Linked DNA regions of Homo sapiens: all the other regions are linked to region 2. The links come from fine-mapping of genetic effects on gene expression. A gene starts in region 2. Each other region holds a variant in brackets. All regions are shown on one strand. Distances are from middle to middle.

Evidence for each region. PIP is the estimated chance that this variant, and not a neighbour inherited with it, causes the effect. A credible set is the group of variants that fine-mapping cannot tell apart.
Region 1: its variant is the best candidate, but not a certain one, in a credible set for the expression of TADA1 in aorta (GTEx, PIP 0.76).
Region 3: its variant is the best candidate, but not a certain one, in a credible set for the expression of TADA1 in prefrontal cortex (ROSMAP, PIP 0.74).

The regions. Positions count from the first base shown.
Region 1 is chr1:166,844,270-166,849,496 of GRCh38, reverse strand. It overlaps POGK (pogo transposable element derived with KRAB domain), which reads right to left. Exons shown (of 6, transcript NM_017542.5): 3 at 2,759-2,885; 4 at 1,905-2,003; 5 at 1-559. Among named protein-coding and RNA genes, the nearest start is that of POGK, 7.4 kb to the right of the region's middle. The variant A/T (reference allele first, on the strand shown) is at 2,626.
Region 2 is chr1:166,873,435-166,878,661 of GRCh38, reverse strand. It overlaps TADA1 (transcriptional adaptor 1), which reads left to right and starts at 2,398. Exons shown (of 8, transcript NM_053053.4): 1 at 2,398-2,502. The coding sequence starts at 2,429. RefSeq lists an enhancer at 2,012-2,061 and silencers at 2,462-2,511, 2,542-2,941.
Region 3 is chr1:166,793,481-166,798,707 of GRCh38, reverse strand. It overlaps the pseudogene CNN2P10. Among named protein-coding and RNA genes, the nearest start is that of POGK, 43 kb to the left of the region's middle. The variant G/A (reference allele first, on the strand shown) is at 2,798.

The DNA of each region.
Region 1 (5,227 bases), 29 kb after region 2:
CTTGCCTTGAACCCTTTCTCTGGAATGTTCATTTCCTGGGCGATTTCGAGAGCTTTCAGCTGCATCGCCTCCCGGGTGATGGGGTCCCCTTTGGCCTGCATGTATCTGACATATTCGGCCACACGCTGGTCCACCAGAGCAAACCTCCCATTCTTGGGGCCTCGGAATGCCCGCCGCATGGCGTGGGCGTTTTGAAGCTGTGGCTTCACTTTGCGCCAGTCTCGAACGTTTTTTTCCAATACTCCAAACTGCTTGGCAGCCTGGCAGTTGTTGGTACTCTCAGCATATTCCACTACCATCAGCTTGAACCCTGCGTCGTAACTGCGGCGCATGCCCCGGCTGAACTGAAACTTCCCAGCTATGTCATCAGCCGAGAGGTCATACCCTGGGAAGCCCATGGCCATGTAGAAGGGGTACCCCTCACTCCACTCGGGCAGCTCTGTGATATCCCGAGGCAGACGGAGGCCAAAGCTGTCAAAGTGCTGAGGCTGAGGAAACTGGGAGGTAGCATTCATTGGGTTTGGCCAGTCTGGAGGCTTTACGTCAGATTCTTCATTTTCTGGGAGACAAATAGTGAGGGGCAAAAATAATGCCAGTAAGTAAAATGGCTTATACCCTGATTTTTGGGGGTTGAAATGCTAAGAATACCTTAATCTGAAGTTCACCAAAAGTAGTAACTTTAATAACAGGTAACATTGCCTAAGTCCTTTTCCATATGCCAATTTATGTGGACTACCCACACCTAGTTCTCTTAATAGAGTAACTCTAAGTATCACTGTTCCTTCTTTGCAGATGAAGAAGGGGAGGCTACAGAGGTTACATAATGCACCAAGGTAGCCAAGCCAGAAAGTGGCAGAGCTGGGAACTCAACAGAGGAACCAAGCTTGGACCAAATAATTTGGGGGCCATGTTTGCATCAAAATACTTTTTATGTGAATGAGAAGCCAAATGTTAACCATACTACCATATAATATTACAGAGATGCATCATGGCCTGAATCATATCCCTTTAGAACCAAGAAAACCTACAGCAAAAACCACACTTAGCAAAGTTAAGCTTATAAGGCAGAAAATTAGTTCTTGCACATTAATGGTGCAACCAGGTTTCACTTTATATTTAGAAGGTGGTCACAGAAGTTGAATATGATTTGGGGAAATTACCCTATCTCACCCAAACTAAAATGTCATCAGTTGTAGGATGCATCATTATGTGCCATTAAGAAAGAAAACACTACTAATTAAGCTATGACATGCCACTGATTTTAAGAGGCATTCTCAATTTCAGAAACAGTAAAGCAATGGGAGAAAAACATGTCTCAGAGTCAGTGAAATATGGCATTTTAAACTCTTACTTCCGGAGAAAAGATAAAACTATTTTGGCCGTCTGGAGGCAATGCTATATTTATTCAACTGTGGCCTCAATAACCATTTTTCTTGACAAAGGACTAGGTACTTCTTAGATACATTTGCTCAAATGTATGCTATGATTGCTATTGCTTTTTCTATCCAGTATGAGATGGACAGGGAGCCAGGTAACTCAGGAAGTGTGCTTCCTCTCACTATTCTTAGTTTGCAGAGGCACATGGTACGCCACTGAGGGAGCCCTGTTCAGCCAGAAGGTGCACTAGACCAAATGCTGCACAAGCCTCATTTTGCTTCATCCACAAACAAGGTCATACATCAAGTCTTGTTACTCAGAGCTGATAGAGGAAGAATGGAAGCTCTGAGGTAAAAGCAGTTGCCTGTCACACACTGTCACACATTTAGCACTGCAAAGAGGGAGATTTCAAAACTCCAAAACCCATAATCCTTCTACCTCTTAAATACCCCGTGGAATGTACACTGAAAATCCCACTCCACAATGTTCCCAGCTGGATGGACGCTGAACTGCTTTACTTGTAGTACCTGCAGAGGTGCCTCCTTGGAGCTGCCACTCGTCAGAATTCTGAGACTCCTCCTCCCCTTCCAAACGGGTGATCATGTCTGGCTTAGGGAATGGGAATTCTGTTTATAGGAAATAAAATAGGTAACAGCTGTGTGTTACTGTCCTGGAGCACTACCAAAATAAGTACTTCAAAATACTTAAGAGCCACTCTCCCCTTCTTTGTGAAAAACAAGGGGAAAAAGGCTCAGGGATACTTAAAGAAAAAAGATAATGGAAAATAGGTCTGTCTAAAGGAATGGGTAGATCTCTCCTAATGAGGGATGGTATTGGCACCAACAATAAAAGAACTGCATTTAGCAGGGAGAAGGGTGAATGCAGCTGCTGATCCAATTAACATTTTGGTACCTGTATAAGCAAACTGGGAAATCTCTTCAAATGATTACATTCTGCTGATAAGATGTGTGATATCAATTTGGGGTGGAAGTTGGGGAGAGGAGCAAACAGTCTTTGGGAGGGTATGTCCCCAAACTTCTGAGGCTGACAGGGTAACATTAACGCCTGCCTTCTCTCGTAAGGAACAGTGAGGCACAGGCCCAGATCCATGGTGACATTTCTAAGGTTACATGGTTTTTATCCTTAAATGTGAATGCCTGGGTTGAATGGGGGCAGTTCTGAGGCAGCACGGATTGCCGAGTAGGGTGACACAATATTGATATACTGCCCAAATCAAAAATTGGAATA[A/T]ATGGGCACAGACATTGAGGAGGCAGAGTCTAAGTTCAGGAGAGAGGGACATTGGATATACCAGAGAAGAGAGGCATGGAAACAATTCTCTGGGCTCAGAGCTTCCAGGAGACAAAGGAAAACACAGCTTTACCCAGGGACAGGACAGTTTCATAATTCATCCTCATGACTTCCCGGTAGAGGGCCTTTTGTTGCTCCGTCAAAACTTCCCATTCCTCATCGGAAAAATATATGGCCACCTCATCAAATAGGGCCGGTACCTGGAAGAGTGAACAGCCCTTTCACAATGACAAACAGGCATATGCAGACAGACTTTCAGAGCGGACAGGACCTTACAGACAGCCCAGCACAGCCTGTCCTCTCACAGGTCAGGTGAGGGACCCTGACCCAGGGGAAAACGGACTGTCCACATTCATACAGCTGCTGGAAGCCAACAAGGGCAAGAGCACAGTCCTTCTGTGCCCACCACAGCAGCTGCCACCCTCAGTTCAGATAAGGTAAGCAGCACTTTGAGAAGAAAACTAACTCCCTACCATGATCACCGGTTGGAGGACATGGGACATCGCACCCTCATGCACTGTGGTGAGAGCTGCTCACGGCTCACCTCTGACCCAAGACTTAAGCCACCCACACCCAGACAAAGTGTCCCACCAACACAAGCACCCCCAATTCCCTCCCACCCCAGAAAAAGACCCTCGGCCCCGGGCGGGGTGAGTTGGGTTTGTAAATCTGAATAGGATCACTGCCCTCCGTGGGATCTTTGTGGGTTTCCAGGGCACTGCATTTCCAAGGGTACTAACCAAAGTGTTAGACTTGGAACCCACAGCTGCCCAGGGAGGAGCCACTGAGAGAAGGGGCCCTATTTGGCCTTTCCAATCCACAAGAGCATGAAGAGGAAGAAAGAAGGGCTAATTACAGCTTAATATATGTAATGAGATGCCAGAGCAAACTCATTCACTTTGATCCTGGACCAGGTAGGCAGAAAGCCCAAAGGACTGCATCCCTCCCCTGTTCCTCTGCTTCCTGGCCCAGCACCAGGGGGCTCCTCAGTAGCCCAAGGCAGCCAAGCCACCCAAACCAACCTCCTCTTTTTGTTTTTAACTGTATTTCTTATTACAGTCATTAAAAATCCTACTCCAAAGCTCATCCTATTTAGTGATAAGAAGGCACTGGATGGCTTGTTTCAGGCTGGTTATTTTGTATTCTTGCCTTCAAAGCTATTTCCCAAAGCTGTATCTTGGGTCTGGGTGATTATGATACTGTTTTTCCTTAGCTTAGAAAATTAGTGTCCATATGCTATATAGCCTGCAGCCACTTCAGGGGTCAGGCCAACAGTCACTTACATACATTGGCCTTTCCTCCCTGACCCAAGGAAGCCCCCTTGTTCTCTCCCCACCTCCACAGCACCTCATACATAGGAAGCACGTACTAGGAAAGGGCCTGTAACTGCTTCATTTATTCCCTGCAATGGGCCTGTGGAGGAGTAGATACGCCTATTTTTTTTTTTTTTTTTTGAGATGGAGTCTTGCTCTGTTGCCCAGGCTGGAGTGCAGTGGCACGATCTTGGCTCACTGCAACCTCTGCCTCCTGAGTTCAAGCCATTCTCCTGCCTCAGCCTCCCTAGTAGCTGGGATTAGAGGCACAAGCCACCATGCCCCTACTTAATCAAGGAGAATATGGGCTTGGAGAGGTCTCATTTCCAGGCTAATGTCATAGCCAATAAATGGTGGGGTTGCGTTTTGGGGCCACCACCGCCTGACCCCAAGGATCCAGCAATACCGAGCACAGCTGCCTCCCTGATGACTAACCCTCAACTCTCCCCAGCTCTGTGCTCCACTTGTACTCAGCTGTGTGCAGTTCCCTGAACAACCATTCCCCAACGCCCCCACACCTTGGCCCATATTCTCCCCTGGCCTTGGAGGGCCTCCCCTTTCTTGGTCTGGCTGACACCCACCCATCTTCCAGGACTCAGCCCAAAATCCCTGCTCCCGAGGAAGCCCACTCTGTGCCACGCTGTGAGCACACCCACATGTCCCTGAAATGTCCTGGGCTCCACACTCCCGGGGCACTCATCACACTGCAGAATTCTTTTGGTTGACTTGTCTGCTCCCTCCACTAGAATCTGAGCTTGTTGAAAGCAGGACCTGTACTTACTCCTTTTTGCTTCCCTAAGCCGAGGACACTTCCTGTAGCTAGTAGTCACTGAAAAATGTGCTTTTGAATATACGATCTAGGCAAATCTCTGGATTTCCCTTCTCTTGTTCTACTTGGAACTGTTTCAAAGAATCATTAAATTTTATCTGTCATAAAACCAAACCTACTCTTTGGAGTAAGAATGGACAAACATCCCTAAGTGTGAAATATGAGGAGGTAAAATGGATTCGTCTTCAGGCTTTCCTCAGACTTCCTCACCCTGGAAAGCCAGTCAGCCCAGGAATTTTCCACCCTACTCCTTTCCCAATTCCCAGGCTTTTAAAGAACTGTCTCTTTGGCCTTTTTTTCTCCCTGGGAAGTTCCAGATCTAGGTCATACCTATTTATAGTCCCTTTCCCTTTGCTGATAAAATGGGAACAGGACTGTCTATGCCTGTCATTTCAGAGGG
Region 2 (5,227 bases):
CGTTTTTACAGAGTGCTGACTGGTGTGTTTACAAACCTTTAGCTAGACACAGAGCGCTGATTGGTGCGTTTTTACAGAGTGCTGACTGGTGCGTTTACAAACCTTTAGCTAGACACAGAGCGCTGATTGGTGCGTTTTTACAGAGTGCTGACTGGTGCGTTTACAAACCTTTAGCTAGACACAGAGCGCTGATTGGTGCGTTTTTACAGAGTGCTGACTGGTGCGTTTACAAACCTTTAGCTAGACACAGAATGCTGATTGGTGTGTTTTTACAGAGTGCTGACTGGTGCGTTTACAAACCTTTAGCTAGACACAGAACGCTGATTGGTGTGTTTTTACAGAGTGCTGATTGGTGCGTTTACAAACCTTTAGCTAGACACAGAGCGCTGATTGGTGCGTTTACAATCCTTTAGTCAGAAAAGTTCTCCAAGTCCCCACCCAGCCCAGAAGCCCAGGCGGCTTCACCTCTCAATATTAAATTGTTTGGTCAGATGTCCATTTATGTATATTATATTGTCTAACATTACAGTTTAAATGGACATTTAACTGAAAAACTGTAGTAAAATTAGTGTTAATAGGTGTATAAGTGCTGAGAGAGAAAGGGATATTTAATTGAGCTAGACGTATGAGTATTGTCAAGCATGGGTTCAAAAAGAAAATCTTTGAGGCCTATCTTTCTTCGTGGCTAGAGACAAATGAGAAACAGGGATTCTTCCTGGAAGATGTACCCAACTATCTGTAGCCTTTCCTAGTCCTGTTGACTTGATCCTTGAATAGATTCATATATATGTTTGAACCTGATTCAAAAAAAATGGAGGTAGCCAACCATAAGTCTCAAAACCAGCAGAGAGGAGATATGCGTAAAGGGGAAGAGCCATGTGATTTGTTAAAGTCAAGTTAACTAGAATGCTGAGTCCAAGTGTGGGGTTATGTGGGAAGGCCAGTGGTGTGTGAGGTACACAGGTAGGGTGAGTTCAGATCATGAGAACATTTGAATGCTGGAGTCTGGAATTTGTTCAGCAGAGCGTGGGGAGCCATGGAAAACTTAAGTGGATATTTTTTAAATGTGTCAAAACTTACCCAGAGTTTTGACACAGAGAGGAAGACTTTGCCTGACCTTTGTATCTCCTTTCACCTGTGTATCTCCAGTACTCAAAGAGTTCCAGACACATAATAGGAGCTCACTGTATGAATTCAAGTGAAGAGAAGGTGCCCGGCTGGCATTGCAGCCAGGACAGGGCTTGTGGGTTTAGGTTGGGCAGTGAGGAAGTTGAATGAATGAACTTAAGGGGACATCTTTGGAGAAATTACACAAGATCTAAAAGCTATCTAGGATTATTTAAAAAACTTTGGGAGGCAATTTGACAATATACACCAAGGCATTTATAAATATTCCCATCATTTGATCCAGTAATTCTATGTGTGGGACTCTATGCTAAAGTAATAATCCTAAAGGAGGAAAAGTTTTATGCATAAAGAAGTTTTGCTTCATTATGCTATATGCTTCAAAAGCAATATTACAGTATTGCTTTTTAATAGAGAAGAAATGGACACAGTCTAACAATTGGGAAACAAGTTGTGTACCTTCTATCTGTGGGGGTATTTAATATGTTGTCATTAAAATTATTCTAAAGACAATGTAATACTACAGATAAATCCTTAAGTTTAAAAACGTGCAAAATTGAACATAGAATATTTTAAGTCATGGGAGTGTGCGAAGTGAAGGAGAAATCTCTCTCAGTTAAGTGTTTGTCCGGGAGTGGTAAAACACTTTTTCCTTCTTTTTATCTTTATCTTTCTGTGTATTTTCCAAATTTTACATAGTTACCTCATTTACTCAAATACTTATTAAGCATCCACTATGTGCCAGGCGCTGCTCTAGAGAATTGCGGGTAACAGTGAATAAAACACAACTCCTGTCCTCGAGCCATAACATTTACAAGATAAATCAACTAAATGTCATATGAGACGGTTAGTGCTCGGGGAAAAATAAGGCAAGGAAAGAGTAAAACTGATACTGCATTTACTTTTTTAAATGGAGGGGTAAGGTACTCCTCCAGGCAGAAGAACAGCAGGCTGAATTCGGAATTGCCCCAGCGGTAACAGAATGAAAGAGCTTGGGACACGCCAGCCTGTCAGCAACGTTGCAGCCGAGGCGGGGCGCGCGGGTTTAGGATGGGCGCGCGACAAGGTGAAGCGGATCACGTGACTCGAGGGGCGGGAGGAAGAGAGCAGAGTTTGGCCGGGCACCTTCCCTGCGAAAAGGCGGGCGGAGCCGAAAACCAAACAAACGACTTCTGAGAGATTGGGGGCGGGACTGACGGCGGCCGGCTTAGCTTCCAGAGCCAAGGCCTTCCGCCGAGTTGGTTTTTGGGTTGTTGATCGCGGTGGCCGGGCGGTCTGCGGTCGGGCTGAGACACGCGGAGCAATGGCGACCTTTGTGAGCGAGCTGGAGGCGGCCAAGAAGAACTTAAGCGAGGCCCTGGGGGACAACGTGAAACAGTAAGAGCTGCCCTAGCACAGCGTCCAGGCCAACACGCGGGTGCTCTCCTGGCCTCGGGCTGCCAGCCCGCCCCGGAGACGCCCGCGTCGCCCGGGGGCCTGTGCAGCCTGGAGTCCGCGGCGGCGGGGCTTCGGGGTTTCTCCGGCCGGGGCGGGGCGGGCCACCTGAACTCACCGCCCTGGAGAGACCGGGCCTCCTGGGCGCCCGGGAGACATCGGCGGGCGCCGTTGCTCGGGACTGTCTGCCCTGGGTGGGGCGGGAGAAGCGCACTTCGCACCCAAGGGCCTGCTGAGCAGGTGCGGGCCCCAGCGCGGGCGTGCGGGATGCGGGAGGCTGACTTGGGCGGAGTGAGCCGGAGCCCTACGCGTCCAGCCAGAGGGCATAGCGCAGGGCGGCCCGCCCCTGGAGGGCTTCCTGGAGGTGGAGGCCTGTTGAGCTGGTGTGATCTGCTACGGATTATTGGTAAGCTCTTTTGACAGCAATTTCGTAAGGCAGACGGACCCTCTGGTGAAATCACAGTCATTGAACACTACAATTATAGTGATGATAGCAGTAGCGGACATTTTAAACATTTTAAGCTCTCTAAATATATTATCTAATCCTTACAACAGATGTGAGATAGGTACAGTTGTTATTCCCATTTGACAGATGAGAAGACTGAGACCTAGTGCGGACAAGTAACTCTTCAAAAGTCACTGTCAGAGTTGGGACCCACGCTTTTGATTCCCGACTGATGCATTAGAGGGGCTGTAAAGGATCCCAGAGACGCTCAGCCAGACCTTCATCCAGGTTATGGCAGGGGACCTAGTGCACAGTCAGGTTAGGTGCAGAATGGCCAAGGGTAAAATCAGTATCCAGTCAAAGCCAAAGCCAAAGAGCAAAAAAGGAACCTCTGGGATACAAGGAAGAGTTTGGAAATTTTCAAAACGTTGTTATTACAACTTTATTTTTCAAAAATATAGGAAGCAAATATAAACGTTTAAAATTACAGTGCCTGTGTTGTTGCTGCTAGATGGCTTCTCTGGTATTCTACACATTTGCATTACTCAGTGGATGCATACTTTTAAATGATGTTGGTGGAGGAGCAATTTGGGAATACTTAATTTTTCTCCAATACTTTCTTTTCATCCTTCTCTGTTCTTTATTATTACTGGATTGAAATTACTTAGGTTGGATGTCATACATGAATTTTGGAGTTTTTCCTTCATGTGAAATTTTGGGGTGGCAGAGTTGACAGTCTACTTTTCATCCTAACAAGATAATAATGGAAACTATAAAAAGATTAAAATTAAAATCTAAACTGTTATTTTAGCATAATTATTTAATTTTTGGTGAACATTTATTTACGCCCAGAGATATGTTTCACTTTGTGTTTGGGGGTTGGGGTCTTGCTCTGTGGCAGAGGCCGAAGTACAGTGGCCTGATCACACAGTTCACAGCAACCTTGATCTCCTGAGCTCAAGAGATCCTCCCCTGCTGTGAGCCTATAACTGGGACTGTAGGCACGCCCCGCTAATCCTGGCTAAAGTTTTTTTTTTCAGAGACAAAGTCTTGCTGTGTTGCCCAGGCTGATCTCAAATCCTGGCCTCAAGCAGTCCTCCCGCATTGGCCTCCCAAAGTTCTGGGATTACAGGCATGAGCCACCACACCCGACTATAGTGTACCACCGAAAATTGTCTTTCGATATTGATGTTCACTGTGCTTATTGAATTAAATATTCTTACTTATTTTAATAGGTAAAATTGACAGCTTTCACCCTAATTACTGTAGCTTTTTACTTTTGTAATACCGACTGATAAAATTTACCTTTTTTTTTTTTGAGATGGAGTCTTGCTCTGTCGTCCAGGCTGGGGTGCAGTGGCATGATCTCCGCTCACTGCAGCCTCCACCTCCTGGGTTCAAGCACTTCTCTGCCTCAGCCTCCTGAGTAGCTGGGATTACAGGCACCTGCCACCACGCCCGGCTAATTTTTGTATTTTTAGTAGAGATGGGGTTTCACCATCTTGGCCAGGCTGGTCTTGAACTCCTGACCTCGTGAGCCACCCGCCTTGGCCTCCCAAAGTGCTGGGATTACCGACGTGAGCCACCGCGCCCAGCCAAAATTTACATTTTTAAGCACATAAGGGGCATTTCACTCTGTTCCATCTAGAATGCTTACAAATATTTGAAAGCAAACGTTTACATACCAAAATAAATCTGAAGGACCTGGCTTGTGTATGATTGCCTTTAACCCTGATTAGATGCAATGGTGACCTCTGTCATCCCATACTCATCAGTTACAGGTTCAGGGCTGCCAAAAGTGTTTTTGAAGTTAGCATTCCTTATTTAGTTTTTAAAGGCCAAAGCCGACTGTCTGATGTTGGTCAAATACTGATGCTGAAGCTAAATTTGGTGCATCTGGAGTGTGAATCCCCACTAAAATGCAATCAAAAGAGATTTTTATGCCAGAAACAGTTAATGGTAACGTATAGTTCTAAATTTGTTTTTCCATTCTCTCATTGTTCTTTTCCCTTCTCCTTAAAAAGTACCTCTGGGTTAAATAGTCAGTAATACTCTTGTACTGTACAGTCATTTCTTATATTTCCTCCATGAGCAGTTTGCTTTGGTTTGCACAACCTATTTAAGTGTGGTCCTCGGTGGTAGGCAAAACATACAGGGTTATGCACGGAGGCTGGATATGAGTTATTTGCTATTTATCCAGTGGTCTGAACATCCTTCATGTCT
Region 3 (5,227 bases), 80 kb after region 2:
AGTGGTTAGCTCATAGAGTGATGGATAGCAAACTTTTGATTAAATAATAATCATGGTGAGGGAGTCTTATTCCTATAACTTCCTGATGAAAACCAATCACTTCCTCCCCCTCAGCTTCTTTATAGAAGAGTCCATGTCTTCAGATGCTTCTCTAGAAGATTTAGGTTTGTCCTAGAATGCAGAGACAGCATGCAGGAACCTCCGAAAATTGTGTAACTAAAAGGAATTCTGAATTGTCATTTTTATTATTAGCAATCTCAGTCCTATGGTTACAGGAGATAAAAGTTTTCTTCAGGAAACACATAGGAGATTTCAGGTCATTTACGAGGTACTTGAGGAATTACAATTCCTGAGTGTCTCTTTTTTTGTGACCACTTTGTCCACAGACATTAGGAGCAACCAACCAACTTCATATATTTATTAGTTTTGCAAACATGTTTGAAAGTTTTACATACACAGTCACCTAACTCCTTGCTTTTTGTAAGTGGTCGATTAGGAGTATCCGATGGAGATATTTTGCAAATTTCTATTGCTAGATCATACCATGGATTATCAGTGTTCTCTTTACTCCTAGAAATAGAGTCATTGGCATTTTTGTTTTTATTTATTTATTAATAATAGTTACTATTCTTATTTCTTCCTAAAAACAGAGGTTTCTATTGCATTTGGTCCACAGTTGGTATTTCACATTATTTAAGGGTGCAGGGCTCTTGGCTGGGGCCCCTGAGCAGTACTTGGCAGGGCTTGTGGTGGGGGGAGACGGAGCCTTGCAGTTGGTTAGTCCCAGAAGGGGAGAAGGAGGGCTGGGGGCTCCTTAAAATCTGATGAGGGACACAAATGGGGGGGTTGGTGAGCATGGGGAGGGGTCAGGCTTAGCCCCAATTGACTCACTACCCCATTGTCTTGCATAAGCCTGTTTCCCCACCCGGCCCCTGTGCAGGTCTGAGGGTCCTAGGGAAATCCAGTCACTCATGAGCCTAAGATATTTTAGCATCCTGGCCTTGGCCTTCTCCCAGGGCACCCATTTCCCAGCACCCTCTCCACTGTCCCCGCCCCATTCCCTAGGAAAAAAGAAATATTTTTCTTTTGTTAATACTTCTGAAACTTCTGTAGGTACAGAAACCACAAACTGATAGGTGGACAAAAGGGAAAAGGAGAAGCAACCGGAAACCTCCTGCTGCCGGCTCCCCTCGCTGCCCAGACCTCTTCTCCCCTGCACCGCTCAGCCCACAGCCTGAATGTGCCCTGGCAACGACCCCCACTTCACATTCATCCAGATACAGCCTTGACCCCTTCCTCCCAAGCCCGGTGTCTCAGTCCTGTGAAGGAATTAAGGCAGGAGGGAAAAAAAAATTAAAACAAACAAACAAAAATAACCCTGCTGCTTGACCCCACGCAGCTACTCACAGACCCTCGGTTGGCAGCACTGAACAGGTTAAAAAAAAAAAAGAAAGACGAAAATACAGGAAAATCCCCCAAACCCAGACAGGGCGATGATGTAGGGAGCCAGCATGTTCGGGGGCCTCAGTAGTGGCCTCCTCCTGGGAGCAGGGGGGATCCTCGGGGGCCTCCCCTGGTCCTGGGCAGTTGCCGGCATCCAAGGGAGCCCCACTGGCTGCAGGCCTTGAGGGCAGTACTTGGGATAGTATATCTGCTGGCCCAGGCCAAAGCCCTGGACGCTGTGGTTGGCACTCTGCGTGTCACCCATATGCAGGGACATGGAGGAGTTGTCACACTTGTGGGCTCCCAGTTTGGTGTTGTAGATGTGCTGCGGGGTCCCGGGAGCCGTCATGCCCCCTGGCTGGAGCGTTTGTTTGCACCCATCTGGAGGCTGATGGTCGAGTGGTCCAGAGGGCAGGATACGGTTCTTGGGGTGGTAGAGATGCCTCATCGTGCCCTAAGTTGTCGCGCCCGACTGGCAGGCACATATGTTGGTGCCCATCTGCAGCTCAGTGAGGCACTGGCTGGCCTTCAAGGTGGCGTCGTCGAAGTTCCGCTCCTGCTTCTCCGAGTATTTGACCCCGACGTCCACCCCATTCTGCAGCAGCTTTGTCTTGACCTTCCCTGCCAGGGCTAGAAGAGACAGCTGCACCTGCGTCATGTTCCTACTCTCAAACAGGTCGTTGGCCTCGAACAGGTCCATGGGGTTCATGTCGTATCCAACCATGGCCTTGATGAAGTTGGAGAGATTTTCTAGCTGGTGCCAGTTCTGCATGAGCCGTTGATCTTGGGGACTGAGCCCAGCTTGTTCATGAGTGTGCATAAGACAATCCCTTCCTTCAGACTCTTCTGGAAGTCGGGGCTGAAAGAGAGGCGGGTGAGTCCCTCGATCCAGCTGCAGAGCGCCGCCTGCTTCTGAGGGTCGCATTTGAACAGGAGCTGGTTCTTGATCTCGGCAAAAAGCTGGTAAGAAGGCCCCTTGTTGAACTGCGTGGAACTCATGGCTGATGGGAAGGGACAGGGTAAGATGGACCCATTAGCATTTTAAAATCTAATTGAATTACAGCGCCAATTCCAGAAACTCTAGAACCAATTCAGAAAACATATTCTCAGAAAAAACATTCTTAAATTTCTTCCTCTGGAATCATTCTTAGTACCAAAATCTATACTGGTTTGAGTTCTCCAGAGAAATAGAACTAAAGGAAATATCTACATATCTATATATTTATTGATATATAAAGTTGTTTCTTTCATGGGCCTGGAGTACGTGGGTCCAATCATTAGATATATAGATGGAGGGAGGAAGAGAGAGAGAGAGAGATTATAAGTAATTGGCTCATGAAGTTATGGAGACTGA[G/A]AAGTCCCACAATCTGTAGCTAGTAAACTGGAGACCCAGAAGAACCTATGGTATAGTTCTAGTTTGAGTTTGAAGGCCAGAGCACCAGGAGTGCCAGTGGTGTTTCTAAGTTTTGGTCTGAGTCTGATGACAGGAGAACACCAATGTCCCAGCTCAAAGACAACCAGAGAGATGAGAGTAAATTCTCCCTTACTACACTTTTTTGTTCTATTTGGTCCTTCAGTGGATTGGATGAAGGTCATCCACACTGGGGGTGGGAGTGGAGGGCAGGCAATAGAATGTGGCAGAAGTGATGTTCTGGGACTTTCAAACCCAGACAACTGGCAGTATCAGTTTTTTTCTTTGGAGGAAGATAGCATATTATAAGGAAGATTGGACTATTGAATAATGAGAAACTATGTGGAGAAAGAGAGTGAGATAAATTATGTGGAGAAACACCAAGGAATCAGACATGTGAGTAAAACCTTCTTGGATATTCCAGCCCAGCTAGCCACCAGGTGAATGCAGCTGAGTTATCCCACCTGTTGCCATATGAAGAAAGAATGCTTCAGCTGAGGCCTGCCTGAATTCCTATCCTATAGACTTGTAAGAAATAATAAACCATGGTGGTTTAAGCTACTAAGTTTTGGGGGTGATTTGTTACACAGTATAGATAGTTAGAAGGATACAGCAATGGTCCCATAACAATTGAACATCCAACATCAAACAATTTGGGGTTCTTATGCCACTAAACCAACAAGCGGAGAAGAGGATTACTGTATTGGCTGGGGTGACTGCTCTCAGTTAACATTGGGAAATGGAGTTGCTGATACACAACAGAGATAGAGAAGACCGTGTCTGAAACTCAGGAAATTCACTGGACATTTTCTGAATGAAAAGCAAATCCTTGGGATGATTGTTGCAATTTGTATCACAAGAACATTTGGTAATCTTTATTGAATTTGCTTAAGAGAGGAATTAGAGTGATACTGATTATTTTTAGAATTTTGAATGTCTTTTTATAGAAATGAAGAAATATTAAATGTATATGATAAAATTATATATTGATTATAAACAGGAAAATATTCCAAGTATCTAGGTCCCTAAGATGCAGTTATTCTAACATAGACTTTTAGGTTATTTTGTTATTGTTGGGAAACTGTACGGAGTATTAATTTCGGGGCCAGATAGAAAATATATCAAATATATTAAAAGTTATATATAGTAATTACTGTATAAATCATAAGGAAGGGAAAACAGGCAGAGTTGTTAAGTAGGGAAATTTGATAGAAGCAGGCAAACGAGGGCAAGAAGTAGAGGAAGAAAAAAGAGAAAAAGCAAATGTTAGGTATGAGTAAGAACAAAACTAACAAGCCCCAAGTTCTCAAAGTTGGCTCAGTGTAGGAACCCTGCAGAACCTTTAGCTTGTTTCTCCCTGTGTCAGTTCATTCTTCTTTCTGCTGAAAGTTATTTTATCAAAATACTTCTGATTATGTCATCTCCCTGCCCCAAAGCTTCAGTGATGCGCTCTTGCCCTCACCACAATCTAACTTTTGAACCATTCTCTTCAAGCCTGGACTTCAGCCTCCCCTCCCAGCTTTTTCTCACCCACTCACCAGAGTGCACTGACTGAATTCCCAAAAGTAGGACCCGTTCTTTAATTGCCTTTGTGTTCACAAAGATGATGGATTCAAATCACAATTCTCATTAGGATGTGGATTGGATGTAAAATCTTGTCAATACTAGAAAAATTGTCACTTGCACAGTGGGGAATCCCTAGAGGCTAGATTTAAACTGTAGAGACATGGACTAGTTTTGTCTTGTTTTCTTCTATGATTCCAGTGTCTAGCACATAGTAGGTACTTGAATATATTCATTGAATGAATGGCTGAGACTTTTAGAAATATGCTTTTTTGACCTTAATTTTGTGTGAGACAGTAACGAGAAGGTAAAAAGAGGTCTTTCAGTTTGTGATCAGCTCTTGGGAATACTTACAGCTTCAAGAGGTTCAGTTTAGGCTATAAAATATCCCACTTGAAAAAAGAAAGCATGGGATCTTCTTCAATTAATTGGTTGATCAAATTAGGACTTCTGGGCCGGGCATGGTAGCTCATGTCTGTAATCCCAGCACTTTGGGAGGCTGAGGTGGGTGGATCACCTGAGGTCAGGAGTTCGAGACCAGCCTAGTCAACATGGCGAAACCCCGTCTCTACTAAAAATACAAAAAATTAGCCGGGTGTGGTGGTGATCACCTGTAATTCCAGCCACTCGGAAGCCTGAGGCAGGAGAATCACTTGAACCTGGGAGATGGAGGCTGCAGTGAGCTGAGATGTGCAACTACATTCCAGCCTGGGTGACAGTGAGACTTGGTCTCAAAAAAAAAAAAAAAGAAAAAAAAATTAGGACTTTCCACTTCTTCATAGAGCCAAATCTACATGAGATAAGGAGGCC